2 separate regions of the Homo sapiens genome follow, and region 2 is linked to region 1. Evidence: fine-mapped expression QTL. Tissue or cell type: whole blood. Region 1 holds a variant in brackets; the other region holds the start of a gene. All regions are shown on one strand. Distances are from middle to middle.

Evidence for each region. PIP is the estimated chance that this variant, and not a neighbour inherited with it, causes the effect.
Region 2: it holds the start of EXD2, and the variant in region 1 is fine-mapped to the expression of EXD2 in whole blood (TOPMed, PIP above 0.99).

What each region holds. Positions count from the first base shown.
Region 1 is chr14:69,249,058-69,251,815 of GRCh38, reverse strand. The region is part of intron 2 of GALNT16-AS1 (GALNT16 and EXD2 antisense RNA 1); the gene reads left to right. Among named protein-coding and RNA genes, the nearest start is that of GALNT16, 9.7 kb to the left of the region's middle. The variant G/A (reference allele first, on the strand shown) is at 1,391.
Region 2 is chr14:69,190,399-69,193,011 of GRCh38, reverse strand. EXD2 (exonuclease 3'-5' domain containing 2) reads right to left here and starts at 1,514. Exons shown (of 10, transcript NM_001193360.2): 1 at 1,421-1,514. All of the region lies in intron 3 of GALNT16-AS1 (GALNT16 and EXD2 antisense RNA 1), which reads left to right. RefSeq lists a silencer at 1,104-1,293.

The DNA of each region.
Region 1 (2,758 bases):
CAAGAAAAAAGTTTTCCTTCCTCTTTCTTCTACCTCAGGCCTCTCTGCAGCTCAGTGCCTAGGGGAAGAGGAGCCCAGTGACTGAGCTGGAGTCACACGCTGGAAGCTGCCTTCAGACCAGACCCTCCCTAAGGGTCCCTCTCTAGCCAGGCTGGCCAACAGCCTTGCTCCCCCGGCTGCCCCATGGGCCTGGAGGGGTTCTGTGGGTGCACACCCGCTGCTGGCTACCCCTGCCGCCGGCACTCATCTGAGCTGTCGAGCTGTGTAGGGATTCCATTCAGAGTGCTCCAGTAAGGGACTGGCCCCATAGCTCCAGCAGCAGATGGGCAAAGAGGCCTAAGAATTCAGCAAAAGGGGAAGTACATCCAGCCTTAAATTCTCCAGGCTGTGCCATCCCCTTTCAAATGCAGACTGCCTTTGTTTGTTTTCTACTACTAATATAACATGAGGACAGGCTCATAAAAAATAATAAAAGGGCAAGAGATGAGTAGGAGACAGGGTCCTCACAGATCCCTTTGTTCCTGGCCTTATCCCCAAACTGCTTGCCTCCATGTGGCAGAGCTGAGCTGCAGGGTCTCTGGCAGGGTCCCACTGCCCTGGTCTCCCCAGTGCCTGCTCCTCATCAACTTTCCCTCATGACATCCAGCCTCCACCTGACCTTCCTCTTTTGATTCTAACCTTTAATGGGTGCTGGCCCATCACTTGTGTGTCCTATGTTCTCTATGCCCCTCCTCAGATTTCTGATCCCCCCCATTACCTGTTTCACCGACTTATGGCACTGCCACACTGCCAAGAATAGCCATCATCACTGAGGTCTGCTTCCTAGTCTGGAGCTCTCACTTGCCCCACAACCGAGATTGTTCGAGGTAGGAGCCTCTACCGTCCATTCACATACCCCATACCCTACATCTTTCCAGAATCAACACAGCCAATCTCCCCTTAGCAAGTAAAAAATATTCATGTCCTTCCTTTGTATGACCCCTTACTGGGAATCCAGAGATCATGATGCTTAGGTCTTGTAAGTGGTCTCCGTGGATAGGGTGGGAAGAGGCCACATTGGTCTTCTGAAGTCCTAACTCTCTTTGCTAAAAGATACTCTTTTGAAAATGGCTCTGCACGCTGCCCATGCTCAATCTGGGGTGTCCTGGCTGTGCTGGAGCACTGACTGCTGACCTCACATTGCAGGCCCCAGTGTTTGCCACTGCAATGAGCAGCCTCTCCTGCCTCCCCAGCTGCACACAGGCCCAGGTGGGGCTGGGCTGTCCCCAAGCAGGCCACGGGAAGGTGGAGGCAAGAAGATCATCGGGAAGCCATGACAGTCAGACAAGCAGCAGCAGATGGGGATGTGCACTGGGTGGAGTGGACAAATAGCACGAGGAAAATCAGCTTT[G/A]GGGACAGAAAAAGCCAAGTGGGAAGTGTAATAAATACTAAAACCAGAAAAGCCTGAAGACAGTCCATCTAGGGAGCAGCAGGAGGATGGCTAACATCACTGGAGTTTAGGTCGAAGGGGAGGACAGCAGGAGGGGTCGAGGTGGTCAGTATTCCAGGGGCTAGGGACAAGAGAAATGGCACAACATAAGTCTCTCGGGAAGGGTCACTCACCTTCCAAGCTGTTGGACTCATTGGCTGCCACAAGAAGAATCTATTTAAAACACACCAGGCATTTTGCCTCATTCTGTTTCCCTGCCCAGAAAAGGCTGGAGCCGAAGGCTGAGGGAGAGGGAAGGATTCCAGCATCAGGACCCTGCATGGATGACATGGCTGAGACCATTCAGGATGGGGAAGATCCCTGCTCCATCCTGAATGACCCACACTTACATCCCCCACCCCCACCTAAGCTGCCAGGCCACTAAACTCCTCGCATATTGAACACAGTCCCAAAGGCAGCTTGTGGTACCATTTCCACTGGGAAATACTCAATGGCTTCCTTCATCCTGTTTTCAAGCTTGTCAGAAAGCAGATGCTGCTCAAATCTGACAGCTGCTCTTAAGGGCACGCTCAAAGGGCACTCCCTGACCAGTGGGAATATTCTTAATGATGACTGAGAGGCCTTGGGTGTTTAGACTATGGCAAGACAAAGGAGCGAGCATGAAAGGGCATCAAGGGTAAAATGGCCCTAGGGAAACCATACGGGACTTGAATTGGAAAACACCAACAGCCTCGCTCCTTTCTCTGGACTGTGTATCTTTGGGAAGTTCTAATTTGGAGAAGACCTGACTCCTTATCCACCTGCCACAGAGAAAGTATTAATAAAATATGAGGCTAGGGTCTATGAGAAGTGGCCCAGGAAAGCCATCTATGCAAATTTTGTTTCCTTCCTACTTGAGAGGGTTGGGGATGAGAGGTCCTTCCTTCCCTGGCTCATAAGCCCATGAGTTGTGTAAAACACTGTTCAAGAAGGCAGAATATAAGCCCTCTGTTGTGCATGATATTCATATTCTTGAAAGAATTAGTGTATAAATCAAATTTTACCTGCCAGAGAAGCTGGCTTTTCAAAATAAATTTGAAGTCAATCCTATGTTTAAACAGAAGGATGGCTTGTAAAGGTGAATAACCATCCTAGGTCACAATTTGCAAATTGGGAACTCTGAATGTCTGACTTGGATGGTGGGGCAGGGGGTTCTGTCTAGAGATTAATCTATGGTTTGCTTTTAGGTTGCAACTAAGCATTACTTTAAAACAAACAAAAGACTGAGTTTTTAAAGAACATTTTTAATGGAAAATTTCAAATATATATATATATATATATAGAGAGAGA
Region 2 (2,613 bases), 59 kb after region 1:
ATTCCTAAATCCCCATACTCTCCCACCCAGCAATTCCACCTGCAGGTACCCATCCTTGAGAAATGCTCTCACATGGGCTCTCACAGAGGTGTGTGGGAAGGATGTTCTCCGCCATACTGTGTCTAACAATGAAAAACTGGAAACAATCTATGGAATCTTACATAACCATGGAATTTACAGAGCAAGTAGAAAGAATAGGTAGATCTCTAGGTACTGACAAAGAAAAAATTCCAAGACCCGTTTTTAAGCATAAAACGTCAAGTTGTGTAATGCATAAAACATGCATATTTGTAAAAGTTTAAAGCGAAATCTTACAAACATATATCTTATACGTACACATACTTGTCAAATAAATGCAAAGAAAAATACACACAAACTGACAACAGTTCTTATTTTGTGGGAAAGGGACTGGTAAAGAAGGTGGAGATGGAAAAAAACAAAATCAAAGAGGATCTGTCTTCCACACTCCCCACCCTCACCACCAAGAACATCAAGCTAAGAAAGATCTGTGTTTAAAATTTTTACATAATTTTGTTACAAGGCTTTATGCACGGACTATAACTAGAATATTTTAAAAATACATTTTTAAAACAAGCTCAACTTGACCAAATTTAATCCATCTTCCCCGCTGCGCCCCAACCCGCACTTCCTAATTCCTATGATTAACAAAACCTTTCAATTCCTTCTATCCTTGGAACAGAACTAAGAAAATAAAGTATAATTTCAATTTTGTGTTTTTGAGGAGAGGGTATATAAAGGAGTTTGAATGTTGGAATCATATCAAAAGCTTATCGGGGGATTGGTTTGTTTGTATTTTAAGGAGCAGATGTCAATTTTGTAATAAATAATGATTAAGGTTCTTAGTTTTGATCCATCCCAGGGATGTGAAAAGCCAAAGAGGTGGCTCCCGGCAAGGCCCAGAGCAGGGTGTGGTCTGGGAGGACAGGGATGGTAGCGAGGGTGGCGGCTCACACGAATCCAGGAGAGAAAACAGCAGCTGTTGCCGCGTCGAACCCGCAGCGCCCGAGGAGCTACCAGGTGCCGCGGGCGGGGCCTCCTTTTTAGCTGACTGGGACACGCAGCCTCGAAGGTCTGGTAGAGTCTCCCAGGGAGAGGGTAAGGGGGTCGAAAGGAGAGGCCCAAGGAGGGCGTGGGAGGCCGCGGGCAGGGGTGAGGCCCTCCTTGCGCACCTGGGTGCTGAACCGCCCCGCCGTGTGCGACGGGGGCGAGGGGGTCACGCCGAGGGGCGGGGAGAGGGGCAGGGCCAACTCGCTCCGGGACAGCGGGGGCCCCGCAATGTCACCCCCGTACACGGTAATATCCCCCCGCTCCACGACCCCTCTTAGTCTGCACTGGAAGCACCCCCTGCCCCGCGCACAATCCTGGTGCAAGGCTTCGCCGGCTTCTGAGCCTCACTTACCTGCTGTCTCGGACTGGGCCGCACACCTGCAGCGGGCTCACGTTAAAGACCTGGAACCTGTGCGGCCGCCTGCGCGCACCCACCCGGATTCACTAGGGCCGTAACCACTTCCGTTCCTGCGACAGGCCTGGAGGACGTAATCCCAGCTGGCGTGTGGGAACGGGCAACGCCATTTTGTACGGAAGCTACTGGGGCAGGTGATGCCTACCCAGTCTCTCTCCTCTGTTGAACAAAGGATCTGTTAAAATTGGAAGGGCTTAACGTCTTCTTCAGAAAAGTGACGCATTTGTTACTGGGATGGTATGTTTGTGTTTTGGTTTTGGCTTTGAAGGGAGAAACCTCCAGAACTCTCACAAATGTAATATGGGACATCGAATTTTCCTTCTTTAGTATCCTGCGTACTGTTTTTCTGCTAAACGATAACAGTAAATAGAAGGAAAGACACTGTATTTAAATAATGTAGTCTTCATTAGCAGTGCACATTATCCTATAGCCACTATAATAATTTTATGTACCCTCCTTTTTTTTTTTTTTTTTTTTTTTTGTAGATACTGTCTCCCTACATTGCCTAGGCTGGTCTCGAACTCCTGGGCTCAAGCGAACCTCACAACTCGGCCTCCCAAAGTGCTGGGATTACAGGCGTGAATGCCCAACCTATGCCATCTTTTATAGCGATAACCACAATACTTTTTGTTTATATATTAAATCGTTCATCCAATCAGTCTTTATTAGCAATTATATGTGAGGCAGTTAATCTGTGCTACATGCATGCTTTTCCTTTCTCATGGAATGTGTAAAACAGAAGGAGAAATGAGATGTGCATAAATAACCAATATAAGGTATAATAATAGCTACCATTTGTTGACTTTGTGCTCACCTGTTGCTAGGAACTTTGCAAAGCATTTTACTTATTTTTTCTCCTTTAATCCCCATAACAACCCTGTGAGGCAGTACTATTATTAGTGCCGTTTTACATAAAATAGAAAAAGGTTAAATAACTTCCTCAAGGTAATTCAGCAAGTAAGCACCGGAGTTAGGAATCAAACCTCATATTTCTGATTGCAGAGCATGTGGCCCCATCCTTTATACTATATTGCCTTCAATACAGGGGCAAATGTTTTAAATTCCATTGAATGAGTACCCATGGGGGAAATTTCCAGCTATTATAGAGGATTAACTCCCTGAATTTTTAT